2 separate regions of the Homo sapiens genome follow, and region 1 is linked to region 2. Evidence: fine-mapped expression QTL. A gene starts in region 2. The other region holds a variant in brackets. All regions are shown on one strand. Distances are between the middles of the regions.

What was found. PIP is the estimated chance that this variant, and not a neighbour inherited with it, causes the effect.
Region 1: its variant is fine-mapped to the expression of PDIA4 in whole blood (TOPMed, PIP above 0.99).

The regions. Positions count from the first base shown.
Region 1 is chr7:149,006,335-149,009,234 of GRCh38, reverse strand. PDIA4 (protein disulfide isomerase family A member 4) reads left to right here. Exons shown (of 10, transcript NM_004911.5): 7 at 925-1,076. Among named protein-coding and RNA genes, the nearest start is that of GHET1, 20 kb to the right of the region's middle. The variant G/A (reference allele first, on the strand shown) is at 1,693.
Region 2 is chr7:149,027,131-149,030,030 of GRCh38, reverse strand. PDIA4 (protein disulfide isomerase family A member 4) reads left to right here and starts at 1,526. Exons shown (of 10, transcript NM_004911.5): 1 at 1,526-1,710. The coding sequence starts at 1,623. RefSeq lists silencers at 1,034-1,613, 1,684-1,753, 1,844-1,893 and enhancers at 1,218-1,811, 1,812-2,406.

The DNA.
Region 1 (2,900 bases), 21 kb after region 2:
GGTTGGCTGAGCACAGTGGCTCATGCCTGTAATCCCAGCACTTGGGGAGGCCAAGACAGGCGGGTCACTTGATGTCAGGAGTTCGAGACCAGCCTGGCCAACATGGTGAAACCCTGTCTCTACTAAAATTACATAACATAGCCAGGCATGATGGCATATGCCTATAGTCCCAGCTACTTGGGAGGCTGAGGCAGGAAGGAGAATTGGCTTGAACTTGGAAAACAGAGACTGCAGTGAGCCGAAATCACGCCACTTCACTCCAGCCTGGGGGACAGAGCAAGACCCCGTCTCAAATAAATAATAAATGAACTAACTCCTGGGCTTAAGCAGTCCTCCTGCCTCAGCCTCACAAAGTGCTGAGATTACAGGCGTGAGCCACTGTGGCCGGCCAGGATTTAGACGTTATACCTTGTACCAAGTTTTTAAAAACGAACCTCCTTTCAAGTGTTTAAGTTATAGGAATTGTCCACACAATTTTTGGTGGTGACTTTTTTTCTTTTCTTTTTCTTTTTTTTTTTTCTTTTTAAAGACAGTCTCACTCTGTCGCCCAGGCTGAAAGTACACAGTGGCGTGATCTCGGCTCACTACAACGTCCACCTCACCTCCCCAGTTCAAGCAATTCTTGCGCCTCAGCCTCCCAAGTAGTTGGGACTACAGGCTTGCATCACCACACCCGGCTAATGTTTGTGTTTTTAGTAGAGACAGGGATTCACCATGTTGGCCAGGCTGGTCTCAAACTCCTAACCTCAAGTGATCCACCTGCCTGGGCTTCCCAAAGTGTGCTGGGATTACAGGCGTGAGCCACCGCGCCCAGCCTACAGTGGTCATTTTCAGAACATTTGCTTTGGCTGATGTGGGTAACGAATTAAATCTCAGACATTTAGGCAATTTTCAAAATTACATCTTATTCTGTTAACGTTTCAGCTAACAACCTGAGAGAAGATTACAAATTTCACCACACTTTCAGCACAGAAATAGCAAAGTTCTTGAAAGTCTCCCAGGGGCAGTTGGTTGTAATGCAGCCTGAGAAATTCCAGTCCAAGTATGAGCCCCGGAGCCACATGATGGACGTCCAGGTAAGCGGGCCCCTCTGCCATGCCAGCCCTGGACACCCCGCAGGCATGAGGACTCTGCTTTGAGCCACCTCTGAGGTTTCAAACGTGGAGGTTTCGCTCTTGTCTGCAGGGTCTGGAACTCCTTTTCCAGCCCGTTCTCCCCACCCCACAGGTTTTCTGCAGGCGGCCTGTGGTCTCTCTTTGCCGGAGGGACAGGGCTGGGGCTCCCGCACACCTGGCAGGTCCTGGGGCTGGGCAGAGCTCCACTTGGTTTTGCCAGAACAGTTGCTGCCACCCTTTGTCCCTCCTGGCAGGCAATCACCAGTCTCCCTCCAGTGCCTGTTCCACTGTGGGTTTGGCCTGGGCCAGCACATGGTGCTCCGTTGAGGCCAAGTCGTGTTTGTTCGGGCAGCTCCAGCTGGGGGCTACAGAGGGACAGCATCCCTGTCTGTTCACCAGAGGGAGCTGTTGACCTTGGTGGGTGGATTTTGCCTTTCTTTCCATTACTGCACCCCTGCACTTCATCCTCCTAGAGTGTGACACACTCAGCCCTAGAGGGGCAGTGGGAGTTCCCAGCCCAAGGGGAACCTGGGGCCAGTTCAGCCTTCTGAGTGCTTTAGAAGGGGCCCTGCACTTC[G/A]GTGAGTAGATCTCAGATTTGGAAGGATCTTAGATGTCGAGTTTGAAGCTTTGGTTTAACAGAGATTGGGCTGCAGAGAAGTGAGCTCTACCCCCCACCCCAGACCCCACAGCTCCTGGTGGGAAGCAGAGCTGAGATTGGGGTGAAGGGGCCTTTCCAGGTCCTACTGGCCCATAGTGTCAGGACCCTGGCTGTTTGGGCTGTGGGCTCTCATGGGACCTGGAGCAGGGGGTGTGACAGGACAGGAATCCCGGGGGCCTGCACCAGAACATGGCAGTACCTTGGAGAGAACCACCCTGAATCTTTCTGGTCCCCATGTCCTCTGTTTCCTTCCTCAGTTTTTAGTCCTGTCCCTCTTTCTCAAGGTCTGTGTGTCCATCCCATCTGTTTCTCTGCCAACTTGAAGCTCAGGGCAACTCTCCTCTTCCCTGGACTCATAGTGGCTGCTGCGACCCCTCCCCCCAGCTTCACTTCCTTCCATCCAGAGATAAGATCCTGGGCCCAAAGAGGGGTCCTGATGAGCTTGGGGGGCCATTGATCCCGAGAATCGGACACAGCTCTGTGTGTGAGTGCATATTCCAGGAAAGGGGTCTGTAGCTTTCAGTAGACGCTTCAAGATCTATGCAGTCTTGTCTGTTGGGCACATTGCTGCTGCTCCCAGTTCTTCTGGCGTTTCCCTGCTGAGTGAAGTGCACGCAGCGCCATGTCATGGTTAAAGACTCCACGGCCTCCTGCCACCTGGGAGATAGTTGGATTATCTGTGCCTTAGCATGGCCTCCCAGGCCCTCCTTACCCACCTTTTCAGCACATCCCACCCTCCAGTGCTGTCACGCCAGATCCTGTTTGTGCCTCGTGCCCTGCCTCAGTCTCTGCTGCCTCCCTGAGTGCCTTCTGCTCCCTTCTCACCAGCGGGGCCCTCTTGTCCTTCAGTGCCACACAAGGACCCCTCCCTGAGTATCCCATCCCCACGGAAACCCTTGGGCTCACAGGCCCACCCACCACTTGCTGGCTGCGCAGCCTTGGGCAGGTGGCTGACCTTGCTCTGCCCACCCCTGGAGGGCGATGTCTGTGAGGGACTCCAGTCGTTGTGAAGTGTGAGCCCTCAGGACCTCCTGCGTGAAGACCGCACAAGCTGAAGGTGGAAAGTTCCACACAGCCCAGCCCGTGATAACCCTTCCTGTCTGCCAAGAGCCAGGCCTACCTTGAGT
Region 2 (2,900 bases):
ACTTTGGGAGGCCGAGGTGGGTGGATCACTTGAGGTCGGTCAGGAGTTTGAGACCAGCCAGGCCAACGTGGTGAAACCCTGTCTCTACTAAAAATATAAAAATTAGCAGGGAGTGGTGGCGGGCGCCTGTGGTCCCACCTACCCGGGAGGCTGAGACAGTAGAATCACTTGAACCCAGGAGGCGGAGGTTGCAGTGAGAGGAGATGGCGCCACTGCATTCCAGCTTGGGTGACAGAGCAAGACTCTTGTCTCAAAAAATAAAATAACATGATACCGAACTGTCTGGTGGCCCACATTCATAGCACTCTAATAAATCAGTGTGTACAGTTGCATAATGTTCTGCCCTACAAAATTGACCAGGAACCATCAGATTAATAGGCATTCAACAAAAAAATTAAGTATTTTTAATTGCTAAGGTCTGTGAGTTATCCCTTTTTTCTTCCTCACGTAATAATCTGCACACACGAGAAAATATTCCTGAACTTGAGTTTCTATTTTTTTTCTTTTCCCTATTTGCCTTCTCAAACTCCCAGGTGTTAAAAAAAAGTCTCAAACTTAATGCACATTACAGGCTTCTTTTCTGACATACAAAAATCGTCATCTTAACCTAGTTTTCTTCTCCAAAGTGGTCAAGAGGGAAAACCTCAAGCTTTTATTCAGATCTATGTAAACCACTAGATTGCCTATCTGGTATTTCCTTTTGCAGAAAATCACTAGAAAACTAAATAAGACGAGGCAAAGTTTAGACAAGAATCTGATGGCTTGTTTCTCCGAGATGCAACCTTGGAGAGAGGCTTCCCCAGATTCTAGTCTGGATTCACTTTACTGCATGCTCTTCCCCGCTCTCTAGCTCAATACTCCGGAGAGAAATGAAACTTTTATTTGCTCGAGCAGAAAAAGAAATTAAGAAGGCCACGAACATGCAGCGGACTTGGAGCCCCTTTCTAGCAACAAACAGGCTCGTGCTCCTCCGCCCGCGTTGGTCTCCAGCTTCCCAGAGCCCCGGCGGGTTGCGAGGACCGCCCTGCTCGCCACTGCTCCCCACCGCTCCGGTACCGACACGTGTTCTTACTGCCAAGTTCGGCCGCAGGATGCTGAGCCGAGCCCCGCCCCGCTCCACATTTCCCAGGCTCCGCCTCTCCTGCCCCGCCCCCGGCACCGATTGCCAATAGCGCCCCGAGGCGTAGCCAGGTCCCGCACTCCCCGTGCCCGGCCCGCCGCCTTTGTTCTCCCCCGCTCTCCCTCTTGGCCTGTGCGCTCCCGGCAAACCGAGTGGCAGCCGCTGATTGGTGGTTGTGGCGCAGCCAATCAGAAGGGGGCACCTCACGTTAGGGCTCGGAGTTTTAAACGCGCAGCCGAGGGCCGCGCGCAGGAGTAGGGAGGGCCTAGGGCGGCGGAGCCGACTCGTCGCGGCCGAGGCGCGCGCGGTCCGTGCCGGCGTCAGTCTGGGATTGGCCGGCCCGCGACTTCCTCCGCCCCCTGCCAATCGCCGGGGACGACTTCCGTGGGTTTTTCCGGCTCCCCCGCGTCGCTAAGGAGCGACGGGCTGTCGGCCAGACCCCGAGTTCTCGGTGCGCTCAGCGGCCGCCGACGCTAGGAGGCCGCGCTCCGCCCCCGCTACCATGAGGCCCCGGAAAGCCTTCCTGCTCCTGCTGCTCTTGGGGCTGGTGCAGCTGCTGGCCGTGGCGGGTGCCGAGGGCCCGGACGAGGGTGAGCGGCAAGCGCGCCGCGGGTCGGGCTGTGCTTGCGGGGGCTGCAGAGCTGTGCGGGGGCCTGGGCCCTGCGACCCCGGCGGGCGGGCTTCCGCGCGGTCAGCTCCAGAACTAGTGATGGGCGCCGAGCCCGGGGTAAACTTGGCGGAGTTGAAGGGGCGGGGGCGGTGGCTGTGGCAGTGGCAGGATCGATTTGGGGTTCCCGGGAGAGGAAGGTGGCCGGGGTCTCTTGGGCTCCGACGCCCTGGAAGACCCCTGTCACCCGAGGCTGGGAGAGGGCTGCAGAGCGCCTTTTTTGCAGCTGGGTCCTTCGCCTTAATTTACAGATTTTCGTCAGGTCCAGGCTAACTCCAGGCGAACGCGCCCAGGCAGTGGGAAGGGAGAGGGAGAGCCACTGGAGAGAAGGGGCGAGGGCGTGAAGAAACAAGTGCGAGTTCTTTGGAACAGCAAGCATTCCTTTTCAAAATGTGGTCTGTAGATTTGGAAATGATTAATCCATAGATTCTGGAGAAAGGGATGGCTTGGTTTGCACCTTTGAGAAACTAGAGATACCATTCCTTCTGCATTTAGCATTTACTGTGTGCCAGTCCCTGTACTGGGTTCTGGGAGGAAAAGATTGTGAGTGTGGTCCCTGCCCATGAAGCGCGTACTCCAGTAGGAATAGTAACAACTACTTCATGGTCCCTGCATTTTTCTTCGAAGTGAGCTAGCTGCAGACATAAGAACTCTGAAGATTAGGAAGTGCTAATTAAGGAAAAGTTGTTATTCCTAGAGAATAAGGCATCCAGGTACTGGTCTTTACCTTCTTCCTCTCTGCCCTTACTTTTAATCACTAGCTTTTTAACCTTCTGAGTTTGTTCTAATATAAATATACACTCTTTGATAATGTTAGTGTGTAGGGAAATCGTGAACTTTATACTCTTTCAAACAGATTGAGTAACTTCTGCGTGGGTCACTGATTCAAAAAGAGTCTTTGCCCAAATAGAAAAGGAAGTAAAAACCCACACTCGGCGAGAAAAACACCTGCCGAAAGGAATCCGATAGCGGGACTGCTTACAAATTGTGTCTTGAGACCTTTACCCAAATCATGTTTGTTTAAATAGTGTTTATTTAAATACAGATACCCAAAATACACTGAAGCAGAATGCAGGGGTGGGCCCCGGAATCTGCGTTTTAAGTCAGTTTTCC